Homo sapiens: one gene and its partners. The protein of the gene in region 3 interacts with the protein of the main gene of each other region in a biochemical or structural test. Each region holds a gene or a part of one and is shown on either strand. Other genes may lie near its edges.

What was found. Proteins that work in one complex are often made in the same cells at the same time.
Region 1: the proteins of PRPF40A (region 3) and HTT form a complex in vitro, tested with the Homo sapiens proteins (2 studies listed by BioGRID and IntAct, with this or other methods).
Region 2: the proteins of PRPF40A (region 3) and MECP2 form a complex in vitro, tested with the Homo sapiens proteins (2 studies listed by BioGRID, with this or other methods).

What each region holds. Positions count from the first base shown.
Region 1 is NC_000004.12:3,203,673-3,210,696, forward strand, and holds part of HTT (huntingtin), read left to right. Parts: intron 1-334; coding exon 335-476; intron 477-2,823; coding exon 2,824-3,003; intron 3,004-3,134; coding exon 3,135-3,311; intron 3,312-3,608; coding exon 3,609-3,685; intron 3,686-5,100; coding exon 5,101-5,239; intron 5,240-6,154; coding exon 6,155-6,277; intron 6,278-7,024.
Region 2 is NC_000023.11:154,094,702-154,102,277, reverse strand, and holds the start of MECP2 (methyl-CpG-binding protein 2), read left to right. Parts: upstream 1-4,560; 5' UTR 4,561-4,612; coding exon 4,613-4,674; intron 4,675-5,308; exon of another isoform or gene 5,309-5,465; intron 5,466-5,496; exon of another isoform or gene 5,497-7,576. UniProt on the Homo sapiens protein: Chromosomal protein that binds to methylated DNA. It can bind specifically to a single methyl-CpG pair. It is not influenced by sequences flanking the methyl-CpGs.
Region 3 is NC_000002.12:152,651,450-152,658,473, reverse strand, and holds the end of PRPF40A (pre-mRNA-processing factor 40 homolog A), read left to right. Parts: intron 1-453; coding exon 454-585; intron 586-1,332; coding exon of another isoform or gene 1,333-1,350; exon of another isoform or gene 1,351-2,075; coding exon 2,076-2,168; 3' UTR 2,169-6,742; downstream 6,743-7,024.

The sequences.
Region 1 (7,024 bases), on a different chromosome or scaffold from region 3:
AGCAATTGCTCAATTATCAAACATAGCCAGTGTGAGTTCTGAAATAAAGGTGCTGATTGAATGTGCAGCTTTATGGTGGATTTTGCTATTCAGGCAAGCATTTTAATTTTCTGCCTGTTAAATTCTGTTTTCTTTAGTTTTTCATATGTGGTTTATTGTAGCTTAGGAATAGATAACTGAGAGTATATATTACACATACAACATTCTGATATGGCAATATTTAAAACAACTTGTCTGTTTTAGAACTAGAATTAAACATAATCATCTTCAGTATTTTGCAAATAAGCTCACTGCCATCCAGAAACATTGTCAATGCATCTGTTGCTCCTTCTAGAAGACACAGTCTGTCCAGCACAAAGTTACTTAGTCCCCAGATGTCTGGAGAAGAGGAGGATTCTGACTTGGCAGCCAAACTTGGAATGTGCAATAGAGAAATAGTACGAAGAGGGGCTCTCATTCTCTTCTGTGATTATGTCGTAAGTTTGAAATGCCTGTAAACGGGGTTGAGGGAGGTGGGGACCAGGAGAACATCCTGTGTAGATGACACTTGCATGGACCCTCTGGAACCCAGACCGCCCGGTGTCCTGCCAAGCTCCATCGAAACTAAATCTAGAATGAATGTTTACTTCTGCTGTGACATATAATTGGAGACCAGGCCTGGCCTTCCAGTCACTGGATTCTAAGTTGGACTGTGAGAGTTTTTGCAGCTGACTCATTTATCAAATGCCCGGCTATTGGCTCACGCCTACATGATGCTGGGTATGTTTGTTAATTTGAGGGAAGCAATGGAATAATAATAACTAATGATTTAAAAAACAAAGTAAGTGCATTGACTGTAGTGGGGTTCTGATTTTAAATTTTTTTAAAAATTAATACCAGGAGCAGTGGCTTATGCCTAAATTCCAGCAACTCGAGAGGCTGAGGTAGGAAGATCACTTGAGCCCAGGAGTTTGAGACAAGCCTGGGCTATGGTGTGAGACACCCATCTCTAAAAAAATAAAAAATAAAAAATTATCCAAGTGTGGTGGCTCGTGCCTGTAATCACAGCTCTTTGAGAAGCTGAGGGCGGAGGATGGCTTGAGCCTGGGAGTTCGAGACCAGCCTGGCAACACAGAGAAACCCTGCCTCTACCAAAAAAAGAAAGAGAGGAAGAAAGAAAAATTAGCCTGGCGTGGTGGTGCATGCCTGTGGTCCCAGCCACCTGAGAGACTGAGAAGGGAGGATTGCTTGAGCCCAGAAGTTTGAGGCTGCAGTGAGCTGTGACTGTGTCACTGCACTCCGGCCTGGGTGACAAGGCGAGACCCCTGCTCTAAAATAATTTTTTTAAGTTAATTTGTAGAAAAGGTGTTAGATGTTCTTTGTCACATTTTATGATGGATTCCTGTTTAAATGCCGTTCTCTTTAAAGAAAAAAAAATAACTTGTGGGAGTTTTTAACCATAAAACTAGCATCACATATTTACCATGGAGAATTTACAAAAAAACAAATAAACGGAGGAAAATAAAACCTCCTGTAATCATACTACTCAGAGATAACTTGCTGTTAGATTTTGGTCTAGATTTAATACTTTTTCTATATTTATATTAAAAATATTTAAAACATATGCATTTCTTTGTCACAAACATGGTATCTTATAGATACTACTGTCACATAGCAAAACAGTGTTAAATATTCTGAATCAGAAAAGGAAGCCGACTCTCCAACTGAAAGAGGTGTTATCCTAGAGACTTTTTCTGGTGATGACAATTTATTAATAGTCACTTTTTGCTTTACTTTCTCTATTGAAGTAGTTTTTCTATTTTGTTCTACTTTTAAGGATAATATAATTTATAATGCTGTTTTTCACAGAAATATAAGAAAAAAGATACTAATTTTATAAGTTAATAAAGTTTGATCATCCCAAATCCAAAAATCTGAAATCCAAAATGCTCCAAATTCTGAAGCTTTTTGAGTGCTGACATTATGTTCAAAGGAAATGTTCATTGGAAGGTTTCAGATTTTCGGATTTAGGGAGCTCAACAAATAAGTATAATGCACATATTTCAAAACCTGAAAAAAATCCTAAATTCAGAATACTTCTGATCCCAAACATTTCAGATAAGGGTTATTCAACCTGTACTGTCAGATGATCCCAAATGAAAAATATTAATCGTTAACCAAATATCAAGGAATTGATCACATTTTACAGTTTCTGCCTAGGATTATGAATCAAGATGAAAAGGCTCTGCATGTTTAAAAATATATATTTTTATTTTCTTATAAATCTTAAATATCTACACTTAAGATTTATTTGATATGTGGGATCCATTCATATTTTGGATTCAACAGTTCTGTCAAAACTGTGGCAGTGATAGGGGATTCTTTTTTTCCCACTGAACTATCACAAAATTGGAAAAAGAGTAATTGGAGAACCCCACTGGCTTAGCCGGCCCGAAGCCCGGGAGAGGGCAGGCAGTGCTGTGGATGGGGTCATCCCAGCGCAACGCTGCCCCTGCTACCTGCGGATCTCGCTGAGGCCTGCCTTTGTCCTTTGACCCTTGGCCATTTGTTAGTGTCTCTGAGAGCTGGACTGCTGTACCCTACTTCCCCAGGGGGCCTAACTTCACACAGCCTCTGCCGCAGTGCGTGGTTGGAGGTGACGGCCTTGGTAAATCGAGTTTCCTACCTCCTCAATTATTTGTGCTCATACACTGTATATTTTTAGTGAGGTTTATATTTGGGATGTGTTTTCTCCTTCTTACCCTTTCTGGCCTTTCTATGGCATTAATACCTGGTCTCTTCTTGTGTACTTGAAAATGAATCTCTCATCATATTTTTCCTTAGTGTCAGAACCTCCATGACTCCGAGCACTTAACGTGGCTCATTGTAAATCACATTCAAGATCTGATCAGCCTTTCCCACGAGCCTCCAGTACAGGACTTCATCAGTGCCGTTCATCGGAACTCTGCTGCCAGCGGCCTGTTCATCCAGGCAATTCAGTCTCGTTGTGAAAACCTTTCAACTGTACGTCTTCATCCTGCCGACTATTGCCAGTTGCAGTTTTCCCTGCCTTAAAAATGGAGTATTGAAATTTTTAACTTTAATTTCTGATTTGCAAAATAGTCATCTTTTGTTCTTTTCCTTCTTGCTGTTAGCCAACCATGCTGAAGAAAACTCTTCAGTGCTTGGAGGGGATCCATCTCAGCCAGTCGGGAGCTGTGCTCACGCTGTATGTGGACAGGCTTCTGTGCACCCCTTTCCGTGTGCTGGCTCGCATGGTCGACATCCTTGCTTGTCGCCGGGTAGAAATGCTTCTGGCTGCAAATTTACAGGTATTGGGAAGAGAAACCCTGATATTGATTTATATTGAAAATTTAGCAGGCCAAGCAAAACAGGTGGCTGGCTTTTTCCTCCGTAAGTATGGTCTTGACATGGTCACCGATAGAAACATGGAAACATCTGCAAACTTGCCGTTACTCGTGTGTCCGATCTGACTGTTTCTTGTATTTTTTTCTAGTCTGCCCTTACTAGGATGAACTGTACACATCAGTTCATCCTTTTTAAATGAGCATGAGGTTATTTTGGGTTGTTAGGTGTTACAAACACACTAATGTGTTTTTGTCTATTAGAGCAGCATGGCCCAGTTGCCAATGGAAGAACTCAACAGAATCCAGGAATACCTTCAGAGCAGCGGGCTCGCTCAGAGGTAATGCTGGAAACACAGGTCGTCCTTGTGTTAGGACAACCCAGGATATAAAGGATATAGATTTGTACGGGAATAAATTCACAGGACAAGAAATCGATGTGCCTTATAGGTGGGTTTACTGCAGAAGTGCCATAATAGAACCTTCCTACTTTTAAAACAACCAGATCTCACTTTCTAAAGAGTAAAGGATGACCGGCAGGATCACGTCTGTGACGTGAGTGGAGGCAGTTTGCACTCCTGGTGGCTGTTTGAGAGGTAGCATTTAGAATGCCTGTATTCACTGTCCTGTGATGAGTGGGAAAATAGGTTATCAGGTTTATCTTAGCAAAATCAAAGCATGTCATCTAATTGCTAAACAAGAGTTGGCAAATCTGAGAGACATTACTCAATCCTTGGCATGCAGGACTTACATCTGCATCCTGTTGCCATTTTATGTCTTCAAAGCATTTAATCATTTAGTTGTGTTTGCAAAGTCTTTGAGAAGCCTTTGTCAGAAATCCCTACATCTCCTATGTGAGTGTATTTCCATGACTGCAGAATAAGTTAAACTTTTACCTTTTTCCTTCCCTTGCGGGGCGGGGTGGGGGGCAGGGATTGTGTGTGTGAGAGGGAGAGAGAGACAGCAGAGAAGGAGAATATAATTATCATGCTGTGTACTTTGAGCTGAAACTGCAAAAAAGGAAAAACACACAAAAATTATTATGCTTTTCAGTCTTTAGAGTACCTTGTCTATTATGCTTTTCAGTCTTTAGAGTACCTTGTTGATGGTGTTTTTAAATGGGATTGGGCACAATTAGGTGGACAGTTTGGGATGATTTTTCAGTCTGTAGGGCCAAGCTCTTTTGTAATTTGCATTATGAAGTTGTCACTCTCATAGCAGATGGCGGGAGATAAACTATTATTACTTTTTGACCCTAGACTTAGTCTTCAGTCCAGATGAGGGAGATTAAAAGATTATAAATATCTTGTGCCAGATGAGGTGATTTTATTTTGAAATGACCATGAATTCCTATCAGTTGTCTTACTGGGATATTTGATAGTGGAATTTGTGCATTTGAGTCTTAGATGATCTGTTTTACATTTATTAAGAAAGCCTTTATTAGCTTTTATACTGTGTATTGCCTGTTGCAGTGTTTGAGTATAAATGAAATTTCTGGAAAATATTAATGGAGTACAAACTGTGATACTTAAAAGTAAACTAGGGCCTGCATTTGTATCATGACCTGTTTGAGTATTGATGAGAAGATAGCTGTGAAGAAAAAGGTTTAAACAAGTGTATTTTCCTTTAAGAAGCCACTAATAGTGCATCTCCTTAGAGTGTATATTTCTAGAATCCTAGTGTGCAGAGTTTAGACTAAGACTAAAAAAAAAAAAAAACAAATTATACTGTAATTTCATTTTTATTTGTATTTTAGACACCAAAGGCTCTATTCCCTGCTGGACAGGTTTCGTCTCTCCACCATGCAAGACTCACTTAGTCCCTCTCCTCCAGTCTCTTCCCACCCGCTGGACGGGGATGGGCACGTGTCACTGGAAACAGTGAGTCCGGACAAAGTAAGTGTCCAGCGTGTCTGCATGGGAGGCACAGGGCGCTGAGTGCCTCTGTCACCTGTGGCAGATACAGAGAGTGCAGAGGAGGTGCCGTGGACCCAAGGAGTTCTGGCGCTCGGCTCGGCTCAGTGAAGCTGTGGTTAGAGACGTGGGGGGCCATCAAGGTCTGAGGGAGCCAAGCAGTGCTGATGTGGGACCCTTTTGGTAGGAGTGTGGGGTGAGTAGTTAGTGGGTGAATCAAGGAATAGTCGGCCGTGGCCTGCAGGCCCCTGACTGCACAGGCCTTCAAGCACATGTCAATGCCGTTAGCCTCCCTCCATCTCCTCATACCTTCTGGCCACCTGTGAGTTGCACTGCCACTGCCAGCCATTCTGGTATGTTGTCAGCACCTCCACTGCTCATACCTCATGGTTAGGGACCACCTGGAGCCTTGGTAGAGCCTTGGTAGAGCCTTGGTACTCTACTTTCCTGGACAAAGTTCAGCTTATGAATATGAATTTAGATTTCAAAAACCAGCAGCCCAAGTATAAGAAAGCGAAGGTTCAGTCCTGCCTTCTTAGGCTCTATTCGCTAAGCACCTGCCCTGCCCTGGTTGCTGGGGAGAGATGAGTAAAGCAGACAACCCAGGAGAGGATGGCAAAGGGGCCGCTAACCCTTAGTGGTTTAGCTATATTTGGAAGGCCTATTGGAAGTTCACCAGGTGAAGGGGGAGGCTGTGAGGGTGCCCAGGCAGGTAACAGAAGTCCAAAGGGGAAAACCTGTGGTGTGGTGAGCCGTATAGCCACAGCCTGCCGGCCGGCAGCCCTCTCAGCCTAGTGCGGTGTTCCCAAGCACTGGCCTAGGCCTGTAGCTCCAGGGATGTGAAGTCCCCTTGAACGCCGCCCATCATGTTCCCCTTATCCATTTTTTTCTTCCCAGGACTGGTACGTTCATCTTGTCAAATCCCAGTGTTGGACCAGGTCAGATTCTGCACTGCTGGAAGGTGCAGAGCTGGTGAATCGGATTCCTGCTGAAGATATGAATGCCTTCATGATGAACTCGGTACGGGGGGAGCAGTGGAGGCAAGGAATCCTCAGCTTTTCTTGTGACTTCCAAGTGGGATTTGTCTCATCATCATGTGACCCACTTGTTGACAACACATGTTGGGGACTCCAGTCTGGGCAGGGACGGGATGTCGGAGAGACTCCACTCTGAATGGGGCCGGGAAGTGGGGAGGACTCCATTTCAGATGGGGTCGGGACATGGGGGTTATGCTGATCGAGACAGAAAAGCACATTGTTTCAGCCACATTAGAATCCACGGAGGTGTTGTTTTGAAATCCAGCTGGCCCCAAGGCTGGGTGTATGGTTTGGGATGAGAACTATCTGGCCTCCACTGGAGGAACAAACACAGGATGTTATCATCTAAGCTCCATGGCCAAGACAGAATGGAAGTCAAGGTTGCGTATTTGCCGTAGACTTCAACACAGTGTCGTAATGCGTGACGTCAATAACTTGTTTCTAGTGTCTTGGAAGTTGATCTTTAGTCGTAAAAGAGACCCTTGGATGCAGCGAGATTTCCTCTACTCACACCTCTGTTAGATGTAGTGAGGTTCTTCACCCCCCAACCCCAGATGTCAGAGGGCACCCTGCGCAGAGCTAGGAGGCCATGCAAAGCCTTGGTGTCCCTGTCCCTCACCCGTGGGCAGGTCCTGTGAGCAGTGGGGGGGCCACCTCTTGGGTATGGTGCAGCCATGGCCCAAGCAGGGCTTCTTCTCAGACCTACTAGGACGGGAGAAACCTCCTGGTG
Region 2 (7,576 bases), on a different chromosome or scaffold from region 3:
ATGTTGTCTTAAGTGACAGGATTTCATTCTTTTTTATGGCCGAATATTATTCCATTGCATATATGTACCACATTTTCTTTATCCATTCACCTGTTGGTGGACACCTAAGTTGATTCTGTATCTGGCTATTGTGAATAGTCATTCAATAAAAATGGGAGTGCAGATAACTCTTCCACATACTGATTTCATTTCCTTTGGATATATACCGGTAGTAGGATTGCTGGTAGTTCTATTTTCAATTTATTGAGAAACCTCCATACTGTTCTCCATAGTTGACTATACTAACTTACTACCCCACCAACAGTATGAAAGTATTCCCTTTTCTCCACATCTTTGCCAACTTGTCTTCTTTTGTCTTTTTGATTAAAGCCATTCTAACTGAATTGAAGGGGTATCTCATTGGGCTTTTGATTTGAATTTCCCTGATGATGAGTGATGTTGAACTTTTTTTCCCCTCCCTCCCTCCCTCCCTTCCTTCTCTTTCTTTTTTCGAGACAGGGTCTCACTCTGTCACCCAGGCCAAAGTGCAATGGCACGATCCTGGCTCATTGCAGCCTCAAACTCCTGGGCTCAAGTGATCCTCCCACCCCAGCCTCCCAAGAAGCTGAGATGACAAGTGTGCACAACCATGCCTGGCTAATTTTTTGTTTTTTTAGAGACAGTGGTCTTGCCATGTTAACCAGGCTGGCCTTGAACTCCTGGACTCAAGTGATCTTCCCACCTCGGCCTACCAAAGTGCTGGGATTACAGGTGTGAGCCAAGGTGCCTGGCGAGATTTTTCCCATATACCTGTTGGTCATTTAAATGTTTTCTTTTGAGAAATGTCTATTCAGGTTTTTTGCCCTCTCCTAACCTTTTATTTTATCTATCTATCTATCTGTCTGTCTGTCTGTCTGTCTATCTATCTATCTATCTATCTATCTATCCATCCATCCATCCATCCATCCATCCATCCATCTATTTCGAGATGGAGTCTCGCTCTGTCACCCAGGCTGTAGTGCAATGGCACGATCTCGGCTTACTGCAACCTCCACCTCCCAGGTTCAAGCGATTCTCCTGCCTCAGCCTCCAGAGTAGCTGGGACTACAGGTGCGTGCCACCACGCCCGGCTAATTTTTTTTTGTATTTTTAGTAGAGATGGGGTTTCACCATTTTAGCCAGGATCATCTCAATCCCCTGATCTCGTGATCCGCCTGCCTCGGCCTCCCAAAGTGCTGAGATTACAGGCGTGAGCCGTCGTGCCTGGTCACCTTTTTTTTTTTTTTTTTTTTTTTAAAGACAGGGTCTTGCTTTGTTGCCCAGGCTAGAGTGCAATGTGCAATCATAGCTCACTGCAGCCTCAAACTCCTGGGCTCAAGTGATCCTTCCACCTCAGCTTTCCAGGGAGCTGGGACTACAGGTGTGTGCCACCACGTCTGTCTAATTTTTAAATTTTTTTTGTAAAGACGGGGTCTTGCTTCTTGCTATGTTGCCCAGGCTTGTCTTGAACTCCAGTTCTCTGATTTTTAAAAAAAATCATAAGTAGATGTTGAATTTTATCAAATGCTTTTTCTGCATCTATTGAAATAATTATGTAGTGTTTTTCCCCTTAAGTTTGTTAAGGTTGGGTTTCTAATTTTAAACCATATTTGCATTCTTAGGATAAAACTCAACTCGGTTGTGATAGATCATATACTGCAGGATTCAGTTTATTTGTCTAGAATTTTAAAACTTATTTCCACATCTTGTGTCATACTTTTCTTGGCTCATCATAGTAGATATATTAGTCTAGTAAAATAAGTTTGGAGACATTTATTTCTTTTCTGTGTATGATTGGAATTGCCTACTCATTAAAGATTTGGTAGAAGTCATCCATAAAGCCCTCTTGGTCTGTTTCTCTCTCTCTCTCTCTCTCTCTCTCTGTGTGCGTGTGTGTCTGTGTGTGTCTGCGTGTCTGTGTCTGTGTGTAGGAGGATGGGTAGCTTTTTAAATACATAGTCAATTTCATTGTGGTTACAGGGATTTTCTGTTTCTAAAGTCGGTTTTGGTAAGCTGTACTTTCCTAGGAATGTATTCCTTTTGCTTATGTTTTCAAATTTACTGACACACAGTGCATAATAAAACCTTTTCATGAGTAACATAATTTACTTTTCTCTTTTCTCTTTATATCCAGCTTGTTAGAGGGTTGGCTTTTGTTTTTCAGCTTTTCAAAGAAGCAGGTTTAAAATTTTCTCAATCCTCTCCATCATTTGTTTCTATTTCATTAAGTTTTATTCATCCTTATTTTTCTTTCTTCTACTTTTGCAGGCTTACTCTGTCATTTCTTTATGGCTTCTTGAATTGGATGTTCAGCGTGATGACTTTTGGACTGCTTTAGCCGCATCTCTATACTTCAGCATCGCACACCCAATGGCTTACTCAACATCTCCACTTTCACACCACTGGGCACCCCAAGCTTAATACAGCCAAAGCAGAACTCTTGATCTGCACCTCTGAAAATGTACTTTTCCTGTAGTTCTCCCCACTATGGTGAAAAGCACCCTTATTTCCCCAGTTGCTCAGGCCCCAATCTCAGGAATCATCCTTGTTTCTTCCCTTGCTCTATGCCCTACATCCAATCCTTTTGTTCAGTTCTGAAAACATATCTTGAATCTCACAACTTCTCAGAGCTGCACTGCTGCCACCCTAGTTAAAGCTACCATCAACTCTTTCTCCTAGACTGTTCCAGGGCCTTGCAACTAGCCTTGTGCTGTAGTTTTGTTTCATCACGTCCAGTTCTCCACTCTACACCTGCAACATAGATCAGACAGCTCCTGGCTCAAAATCCTCTGAGGGCTTCTCATCTTAGAATAAACTCTCGGTTCTGGCCGGGTGCGGTGGCTTACGCCTGTAGTCCCAGCACTTTGGGAGTCCGAGGCGGGCGGATCACTTGAACTCAGGAGTTTGAGACCAGCCTGGGCAACATGGTGAACTCCCATCTCTATCAAAAATACAAAAACTTAGCCAGGCGTGGTGGTTCGCATCTGTGGTCCCAGCTACTTAGGACGCTGAGGAGGGAGGATCGCTTGAGCTCAGGGTGGACGTTGCAGTGAGCCAAGATTGCGCCACTGCACTGCAGCCTGGGTGACAGAATGAGACCCCATCCCCACCCCCCCCAAAAAAGAATGAACTCCCAGTTCTCATAGTGGCCCCAGCTGCCTTTCCAATCACATTCCCTACCACTCTCCAGCAACACTGACTTCCTCGTTAGTCCCCAACATGCCAGGCATAGTCTCTCCTCATGTCCTTTGAACTTGCCTGGAATGTTCTTTCCCCAGATATTCATATGAGGGAGTAAAATGAGGGTGAAAACCAGCAGATATCTAAATAGCACCCCCTTCACTTAGTTTATCTTTCTCAAAGCCCTTATCACTATGTGAAATGATATATTATACTTATTTGTATGCTAGTATGAATCTTCCCGGCAAGAATGTTAGTTTGCTGTCTGTTCAGTACCGTGCATCCAGAGCCTGGAAGAGTGCCTGGCACATAGCAGGTAGTCAATAAATGAATGGGGGCAAGCAGCCAAATCAGAATCAGGTTTTCTTGCTAAGCATAGAACTAACAGAAGGATCATTGAATGGATTGGATAATGACTGGCATCAGGGTAAGGTCCCCTTAACAAACACTCCTGTCCTGAACACCTGGTTAGCTAACAGTTTTCTCATACTCTTATTTTCCCAAAACACAATTGCTGGATCTCAGCTCCAAATCAACTCTTCTAGGAAAGTGAAAAATTGCTGGATCTCAGCTCCCAAATCATATCTTCCAGGCAGAGCTAACATTGCCCCTTATTCACACCTCCACCAAACCATCTGATCCAACAGTGACAGGTGTCACGAGGCCTTGGCATGCACTCTCTTCCCCCGCCAGAGTTCTGCGAAAGCCAGGGTTGCGATTTGTTGTCAGTTTATTCCCCGCCTCTATGAGAGTGTGAGCACTGGGCAGGCTCGGATGAAATAATGCATTGAGTAGGCCTCTGAAACCAAGGCCCCTCAGCTGGGGCAACGTCAGGCTCCAGGGTGGGCAACTTTGCTGCTTCTGCCGAAGATAGTGATATTGAGAAAATGTGGGTGCAATGAAACGCTTATTGCAGCGCACTCGGTGCATCTGTGGACAGAGGGTCAATCGCCCCTCAGAGCAGCGCAAACAGGCGTCCCAAGCCTAGGCCTTCACTTGCCCCAGCATCCGCAAGGGTCCATTAATCCTTAACATTCAAATTCCGCCCACTAAACCAGTCCCTCCGCGCCCAAGCCGCCTCTTTTCCCCAAACGACGGCCGAAAGCAGCCAATCAACAGCTGGAGGGGTCCGCCCCCTTTTCCCTGGCCGAAATGGACAGGAAATCTCGCCAATTGACGGCATCGCCGCTGAGACTCCCCCCTCCCCCGTCCTCCCCGTCCCAGCCCGGCCATCACAGCCAATGACGGGCGGGCTCGCAGCGGCGCCGAGGGCGGGGCGCGGGCGCGCAGGTGCAGCAGCGCGCGGGCCGGCCAAGAGGGCGGGGCGCGACGTCGGCCGTGCGGGGTCCCGGCGTCGGCGGCGCGCGCGCTCCCTCCTCTCGGAGAGAGGGCTGTGGTAAAAGCCGTCCGGAAAATGGCCGCCGCCGCCGCCGCCGCGCCGAGCGGAGGAGGAGGAGGAGGCGAGGAGGAGAGACTGTGAGTGGGACCGCCGTGGCCGCGGGCGGGGACCCTTGCCGGGGGGCGGGGGTCAGGGGCGGGACGTGGCGCGGGAGGGGCCCGCGGGGTCGGACGACACGGCTGGCGGATGGCGTCCCTCCTCTCTACCCTCCCCCTCCCGCCGCCGCCGGTGGCGACTCTCCCCTCGGCCCGTCACCCCTGCTCGCGGGTGACCGTCCTCGGCGCGGCCTCCCTGGAGCCGCCTTCGCCTGACGCCCCTCTTCCTCCCGCCCTCGACGCGCATCCCGGCCCCCGGCCCCGCGGGCGCCCCTGTCGCCGGGGCTTCGCCTGTCGGGGCTGCGCGCGCTCCTGCCCTTCTCGGGGCTTTGGGCCGCGGCGCCGTCGCGCGCCCGCGGCCCCGGCCTCTCCCTGGATCGCGCTCTCCCCCTCCCTCCCTCGCGCGCCCCCTCTCCCGTTACTCGGCCCCCCCACCGGCGCGCGTGCGCACTTCGCCTCCCGTCGGGAGAGTGCGCCACAAGGGCTCCTGAGCTCTCACCCCCATCTCTGGGCTTTGCCTCCCCCTCCTTCTCGCCCATTCCATGAATTTCTGCCCCCCGCTACCCCCCCGCGAGCGAGTAGGTCCACCGGCTCCTTTCCCCATCTAGCAGGAACAAGTAGGTGGGGATTATTATCCACAAAAGGGACTAGACATTGTGTTCTGGGTCCCACAACTCATCATAAAGAGGTGGTTATAGTTCCCATCAGGAGCCGTGGGTAGGGGACTGTGCGTCCAGCAGCACCCGAGGCTCTTCGGCGCCAGAGGCTCTAAGGTGCGAGCGTGTCCCCAGGGTGCTCAGAGGTTCTTTGGAGTGCTGTGGCCTCGGAATGTGAGCACCCTCCCATCCTACCCTCCCCTTCGCCGGCGATCTTCCAGTTACATAAGTGGAGTGGGACATAGTAGGTAACGGGCTCTCATCGCCCTGGAGCGCTCGGGATCACCGGTACCAGATGGGGCAAGTTCATCGCGACGCTGTGGCTCCTGTTAATTGTGCCTGAAAGGTTATCCTCTGTTCAGTTTGGTCATGACCGAATCACCCAAACTGAAACTCAGATGACTTTTATATGGCAGTGGCAATGTTTCTGTGGTTTTGCACTAAAGACTTAAGGTCATTATGAAGAGTGTAAAAGGATTGCTGTCGCAGGGGAGACCGTTTATGACATTGCTAAGTATGGACCCCGAGGGGGAAAAAGCTCATTCTGGAATTGCTCTGTGGCGGTTGCTTCTGTTGCGAGTGTGTTCGGGTGTGGGTTGGTCACAGCAGAAATGGGCTCCACCACAAAATTGATATTCCTGACTCATGGTCAGGCAGATGTGTGCTTCTGGTTATTTTTCCAGGAACAGGAATGGGCTCTGCCGAGCCTTTCACACGTTGTGTCTCTGCTGTGCGGGATCAGTACCCCAGACTGTGAGATAACAGGATCGAATTCAGGGGTTGGTTGGTGATCCAGGAACCATACCTACTTGGATGTGATACTGAGTGGCCTAGACGTTGTAGGACTCTCATAAGTTTTAGACATTTTGTTATACTGTAAAAATGAAGCATATACGGCCTCAGTAGTAACATTGCACTAATAGGTAATTATTACTCTAGAGAATTTTGGGTTCCATGGCTGGAATGTTCATCAGTATCTCAGCAATTTCAGTTAATAACCAGATTAAGCTGACCTCTTGAGTCTTTTGAAATCTGCTGGGTCCCTATAATAAGACAGGGTCTGGATTTTTTAATCTTTTGGGAATTTCCACCAAGGATTTAGGGAAATAGGCTTTTATGGGCTTTTCAGGATTTCTATTTCAAATCCCAATGAGGAAGTCTAGGAAACACTTGCTTTTATTTTCTTGCCTGAATATGTCAGAACCTTAAATCACCCAATCAATCTAGAAGTACTACAGTTGATTAAAGTAAGTCACCACAGGTCACCCATTCGTGGCAGGTCAGCTAGGTGGCTGATCACTGGAATACAGTCATATCCCCAGGCATACACACGAGCCTCACTTGACGATCCCAAAGTTTGTACATCTGAGCTTGAGACGTGACAAGTTGAGGTCTCTGCTTTGTTCTTCATAGTTGGCAGTTTGTCTCCTCGGGTGCCCCTCCGGTTAGCTGTTTATCATACGTCTAGCCCTATCAACAGTGCAGGCAGCTTCCAGAGTATAGTTTTCTCTGCAAAGTGCCTGGTGGAGGGGTACCTCCTTTTCCATTGTCCTAATGGCTCCACTGGGCTTCCATACCAGCCCTTTCCAGTGTCTTAACAGCTCAAAGAAACCCATCTGTGGCTTTCTTGTTAGCACTGGCCTATCACACCTTCCTATTGCCTGTTAACTAAAATTTTGCCTGGAATGCTTTAAGCTTAGAGTACTGGGTCTTTGTTTCACCCGATTGATAGGAGAGTGTCATGCAGTCAGCCGAACTCCGACTTCTGTGCTGTTTAAATCCTTAGGTAGGTCTGGGGCAAGGCACAAACCACTGTGTATTCAAAGGGTTATGGTGCTTGCATTCTGTGTGTATATGTTTGTAATTTCCAACCAGAGTCGTTTCCCGTGCCTGCCCTGCCTCTGTGCAATCTAGTCTAGTAGGGTAGGGAGGCAAGCTGTGGAGTTTGAAAAAAAAAAAAAAAAGCTAGATGAGTTTAATAGGCTGTTACCCCCTCCAGAACATTCCTCCCATGTGGAGATGAAACGAGAAGTTCATTTCTTTAACCTAAAATAAAGAACAACAGAGATAAAATTGTTAGTTCCTTATTGGAGCCTGGTTTCCATTGCTAATGTACCTGCTTGGGACTCTGCATGATAAATGACGTGTCCTGGAACCTGAAATCTTTTATAAAGGTTAATATCAGCAGAAATCTTTTAATTAGCTAAGAGCAGCTTGTTCTCAAGCTG
Region 3 (7,024 bases):
GCATATCTAATGAATAACCATTTAAGCACTAACGTTAAATTTTAAATAATTCCTACTCAGCAATTTCAAGAAAATAATTTTATTAATACAGCTGTCTGCCTTATGTGTTAAAGCTAACAGCAGTATACTATGTACATATATAAACCAATATTATATTGAGTTGGTGAGAAATGTAGTATCTGTCTGTATTTACATAATAGATACTACACATCTATTATGTGGTAGTAAGTCTCATGAGTGGTATTTTATCCTTCAGAATATTATCCTTCCCAAGGGAAAGCTGTCCCCATGAATCTTGGGTAAATTTTACTAAATCCTTGAGGTTAACAATTCACATTTTATTTCATCTCTCTAAGAGCACATAACCTGTTACACATAGATGTTCTTAAATATTACCTATATAACAATGGTATCTTCATCAAAATGCTAACCTGTTATTTTCTATTCATACAGGACTCTCCAGAATCCGATGCTGAGCGAGAGAAGGATAAAAAAGAAAAAGATCGGGAAAGTGAAAAAGACAGAACTAGACAAAGATCAGAATCAAAACACAAATCGCCTAAGAAAAAGACTGGAAAGGATTCTGTAAGTATTTAGAATTGTTTCATGCCTGTATTTTCAAAATGCAAAAATGTATTCTGTGGTTAAACCATGATGGTGTTGAAAGAATAGGCTTTTTTCCAGGTGTGCTACCATTGAAGAAAACAGTGAAAATTCAGTTAAGTACATTTCACACAATATCATAGTTTTTGGTCATGCATGATCCTAGATTTTATTCTCCTAAATTTGATATTTTTTAAATATAGCATTTCATAACTATAGCCTTATTAACTCACTAAGAAAGGATATGGTCACTAAGAAGTGCCACTGGACATTTTTTACCTAATTTTCAAATTTTTTTTTTAAGTGAGAGACTAAATCTGGGATTCTACAGATGTCTACAGTTGTCACTGTTATTAAATCCTTTGTTTCAAAAGGTAGCAATTCCAGTAACTTTTAGAAATACTGATTTGGGGTGGAGGAAGGGCAAATAAATAGGAGAGGAGAATATAAGCCAAAGTTAGTATTTCAATAACAGATTACATAATTAGTCCTTTTCAAATATATGTATATATGAATGACAGAGCCTAATAATGCAAATGCTGTGGGTTTAGCAAGGGTAAATGCCTATGAATCATCACTGGAGAGCATAAACTATGTAGGTAAAACCCTATTAGGGATCTCTGGATATTCTGATTCGTTGGTATAGGGTGGGTTTTTTTTTAGAGCTGAAACAGGTGAGTCTGAGTCACATCGTAAGTGAAGAGTGAATGTTTCCTTTGTACTTTCTAGCAGCTTATGGTGGGTTAAATGAAATCCCTGGAGTGAATGAAAGAGGACGATATGGGAACTATCCACTTTTCAAAGGTTGTGTCTTACGGTGCAGTATTATTTTTGTTTGTTCAGCCTAAATCTTGTCCTGCTCATTAGTCTTGTGTATTTATTTGGCACAGGAATCCATATGCTTAAAGCATACTACTTCTGTTTCTGTGATAATACTTGTGGAACCAGGGGGAAGCTACAAAATTAGCAAGGAATAGGCCAGGTGCAGTGGCTCACACCTGTGATCCTAGCCCTTTGGGAGGCCGAGGTGGGCAGATCACGAGGTCAGGAGTCGAGACCAGCCTGGCCAACATGGCAAAACCCCATCTCTACTAAAAATACAAAAATGAGCCGGGCTTGGTGGCAGGCACCTGTAATCCCAGCTACTCAGGAGGCTGAGGCAGGAGAATTGCTTGAACCCAGGAGGCAGAGGTTGCAGAGAGCCGAGATCGTGCCACTGCACTCCAGCCTGGGTGACAAGAACAAGACTCTGTCTCAACAAAAAAATTAGCAAGGAATGTATTATCTAGGAAATGAATACCTGGCTTCCATTAAATGGAAATATTGCTTCATATTCACACAGTCTTTAAACCCTGTGAAATGTGTTTCTTTGGAAGAGAGTTTATATAGATATTGGATTCTTTTTTCAAAGGCTCAGCCCGTAAACCTCTGAGTACTGATGTCAACTATAATTGTAATCAATGTCTTTTCAGGGTAATTGGGATACTTCTGGCAGCGAACTGAGTGAAGGGGAATTGGAAAAGCGCAGAAGAACCCTTTTGGAGCAACTGGATGATGATCAATAAATTATACCAAATATATGTTTACAGTATGATTTAAAGTCTGATTCAGACCAGGGACTCTATTTTAAGTTCAACTGAAATAACACTGGGTTTTAATTATATCACAGGAAAAAAAAAGTGCATTTAAGTATTGTTATCGTGGACTTTATAAAAGCAAAGGAAATTGAAAGTAACTTTTGATTCTGTATCAAGAATCATATTTTCATACAGTCATAACTGTCTTTCTGTGACCCTTTCACAGGGCACTGTAGGATGGATTAAAGGTGGCAATTTACTGATAACTGCAGATGTCTCTACTTTGTTCTAAAATCTAAGTCATGAGGTGATTTGATTTACTTTATAGAAGCTGGATTTTGAAGATCTAATGAAAAATTTTTTGATAATATAGTAGTACAAAAAAAGCACCAGCAACTGATAAAAATTGCTTTTTTGTGCGCTACCCAACTGGTTAAAGCCAATGTGATCTTTTATGGTGAAACTCCTAAGAAACAGGTGGTTTTGCTGGAAACTTGGTAGACCCTTAATTATAGTGGTGCTAATGAGCACTACTGTAATATAAAGCCACCATTATTTTTTATCAAACATCTGAATACATTTTACAAAGGCTATTGTGAGGGCATTATTTTGAGCATCTATTTTGAGGTGATGTTTAAAAAAACTTTAACATCAAATCAAATTGTAAATTAATTTAAATATATTGCCTTAAGGACCTACTAAAGAATGTGCCACCAGACTTTAAGTGATAGTTGCAATATCCTTGTCTAAAAAAAAAAAAAAAGTTGACTTAAACATTTTCTTTAACAGTTGTCTTTTTTTTCTAAATTCAGTCTTTCTCTTGCTTTTTTTTCCCTGCTATTGAGGAAGTATTTTGCCTTCCCTACTCACTGAGAAGTATTGACTTCGTGGTACACATTCTAAAGCATTTCTGATTTGAATATTTTTGTACATTTTTATCAATTATTAAACCTTCTCTTCTAGTGTGTACTAGTATTTATTTCTACTTAAACTGCTCAGCTCTAAAGAAATTGTATGATCACTTTAAAGGTACTAAATCCCTGAAATTTTGCTTCATCTTACCCACACCGCTAGTTTACTTTCCTTTTTTAATATTTAAGAATATTATAAATCAGTGCATTTGAGGTCCCTAGATTTGTTTTTCACCTATGAATTTTTTACAGACTATTTTAGAGAGGCTGTGGTTTGAAGACAGAATACTCTTTACATGCTAACTTTTGAAGGTTGGTAATGTAATTTATACTATTTTCCTTCAGTGCAGGAGATTTTTTAAGTAAATAAGTAAATTTTAGCACCTATTCTTCGGTATTATCTGTGTTATTCTTTTAATGTGTACACTTGAAGAGATCCTATTTCAAAGTTGGGATTTTGAAGAACAAAAAGTTTTTTTCTTACCCATCCTAGTGAGTTTTGAAAGTGGGCCTGACCAGAATGTCTCTTTCCCATTTTGCCCCGTTTGAATTAAATATAATGTCTACTCTTTAAAGGCTGAAGGGGTGGGTGAGGGGATTGTTTCTCATTTTGTCTCCCAAGTCATTTTTCTGCTGTGAAATATGACCAGGCTTGTAGGAAGACTCATCTTGGAGAAAATGTGAAGTAATCAAATTGCTTGAGATTAGTCTCCTATTGTATATTAGAGCCAAAACACATAATAACTTTGGCAACAGGGAGTTGTCTAGACTCAATTTTCAGAGGTCCCATTGTAGTGAGTTAATATTGCTAATCATGTCAATCACTTGACATGGAAGTCAGTGGCAAATCTTTAAAGTATGCATTTGATACTGGCAAATATATACTACTGATGTTTCACAAAAGAATCTTAGAATCTGTAGAAAACATTAATTACTTCCATGAATTATTTCTAAAGTATAACTTTAAAGTTTTGATTTTTCTATTTAAATAAAAAGCTATTGATGTGTTTTAGCATGTCCTCAAAATAGATTCCTGTATTTCTTACAGAGATAATCTTACTATAACCGCAAATCCCTACAACACAGTATAAAGTTTCCCTGTAGTTCACCCATGAAAATTATTTGACTTAAAAACAACCATAGTAGTAAGCCAATTGCAATTCAAAATGCAACATCCTTGCCATAAAAGATGTAACTTAAGTGACTGTGATCCTTTGTCTACCTTTCAGGATCCCATCAAATGGGATTTAGTTGCTAGAAAGATACTTGACAGTCTGAAGGCACAGGTGATAAGATTTTGTTCTCTGTGAATATTTTTAAACTAATAGGTTATGTTTTTAAATCTTCAATTTGGTAAAAAACTGAAACGTCTTGGAATATTGGTTCTATTAGAGTTAAATATGGTAAAACAGGAAAGCGTGTTTATTTTCAGATAAGGGGAATTTATACTTTTCATTAAAGTCTTGGAGTCTTAGGAAAATGTTGAGGGTTTGTCTTCCCCCAGTGTCATTAATACTAATGAACTATTAGATCAAATTCACTTATACATTTAATATCATAGTTATTCAAAATCAGGACTTTAAATATTTTTTTCTCCCAGTTCATATTTCTTTGTGCGAAAATTGAATTTGTATGAAAAGTTAGATAATTAAGCTAATCAAGTATGAAGTATACACTCTTCCTAAGTGAATTTAAATAATGTAATGCTTTTAAATAAAAGCAGTGGTCCCACCACATTTTTTTCAGCATAGTAGCTGGCATTTTGTTATCATTAGCCAGAGTAGCTTCAGCATATAAGTTATTGATGTTTTCCAACTTCAAAAGTGCATTTTATGCCTCCCAGTAAATTTGATAATGATTTGTCACAGCTTTGTCATCTTTTGACTTTTGCTTATGGGCCTCACTTCGTACAACTATAACATGAAAAAGGATTGTCCTAAAGTAAGGGAATCAGTTAATGGTAGGATGAAGAAACTGTAAAAACTCCTAGAAAAAAACCTGTGTGCATTTTTCTGGAAAGTTTTCAAACTGTGTAATTCAGTTTTCATTCAATTATATAATTTGGTTATATGCTTTAAAAAACATTTGTCTAAATGTTCCCGGTTTTCTTCTGGTCTTAGAGTCAGCTGAGTGCTGGCTATGCAGCCACTCGTATTTTTGCATCCAGAAAGGAGTAACTCCCTTTATATGAAGATTTTTTTTTTTAAGCTTAGATGCTATGTAAGAGAAAACTATTTGTAATCACATAGTACCCAGGGAGGAGTGATGAATGCTTTTTTAAAAAAGGATATTTAAGTATATTATGTAATTTAAATATAAATTATCAAACTAAAAAACTTCAGCTTTTAAAACTTTCTAAACAAAATGAAGCAAAGTACATTAATTCCTTCTATCTTAAATCTGAGACTTTTTATTTTCCCTTGGGTATATATTTCTCTCAGTGTTAGGTAGATGTTAATTCAACCATCCTACATTCTCTATATAAAATTACACTCATTTTACATGAAAGCAAAATAATGTCGTTACTTTCATGGAACTGTGTTCTAACAGGCTTATAATCTCATTCTGTGCTTCTGGTAATGGCGTATACCAGTCTGATGATTCTTACCATCCTTATTCTTACATTACTCTTCCAATTGTTTTGATTTTAACTGGTGGTCATGTAAGTTCCTCGGTGGCAGGGATTTATCTGGTTCATTTACTGTTATATATCCTTGTGGAATAGGACAGTGCCTGGCATATAATAGGCACTTTTGGAATGAATGTAAAATACTAGTTGAAATATGTATTCATCTGGCATCCATGGTACCCATCATCTGTATTAAAGGGCTTAAAAAAGCATCATTGCAATAAACCATACTAACCCACCACTAAAGTCACAGTCATAATTGAAGTGCACCCAAAATAAGGTCCAGTGACTGTACCTTAGCTTTTACTTCAGACATGTCCAAAACTTGTGAGAACATACAATTTAAAGTTGAAAACTCATCATTTTGGGCTATTTTTGAATAGGGCTGAAATATGGTGACATGTCAGGCACTCAGTTTTTTGGAGCTGTCTTAAAGGTGAGGTGGAAAGTGAGAGATGATTTTGCTCTAATTACCCACACATTCTCCCTAACCCTCCATTTTAAGACACTTAGCTATAATAGCTTAAGACTATCAAAACTGCTTTTGTGATTCTCAGTAGGATCTAGTTCAAAGCCATCTCAGTGCTAGTGATTGGTAATTGTTAATTTGATGGTAATTACCCTACTTGTAAAGTTGACATTCATACTGGCTAATCCTCCCTGCCCCTAGTCGTGGACAATGAAACAGTGAGTGGCTGGTGAATTAGATCAGATTCAAACTAAGCCATTCCTTGATGCTATTCTTCACTGCTGTTCCTTAGGGTATCTAAATGTGTTATTTATAAACATTTTTGGGGGCTCCTGCCTGCAAACTTCGGTAGGTGTTGGTCTTCCCCACCTCTACAACTGAGCCAAGGACTTGTTCTGAAAGGTGAGTAATAAATAAGGGAACAAGGTTTCTATTTTCTGTGTTTGTAATTACCAGATTTTCACCTCTGTTTATATATTATTCTGATGTAAAAGAACCTCATAGTTATATAAAATTAGACCTTTTGTAAATAAATATAATTTATTAGAAAAAATGGTATCTTTTACTAAATTGGATTTGTGTCAGTTTTTTCCTTTAAGCACCACTCAGGCAGCAAGCTCTATGCTGTGAGAGTTGCTGGAGGCCCACGTTATGTTTTCTCAGTGTAATTCCTCTTTTTCTTGATAAAAAGACTTAAAAAAAAAAAAAAAACCCATCACTGATTTCACGTACATGTTTGTTTCTTCAGATTTTTCTTGGGCATAGATGGGCTGTTAGTTTAAAAAGAAATGGAAAACAAATCCTTTTGATGAAATCTGATAAATTCATCTTTGGA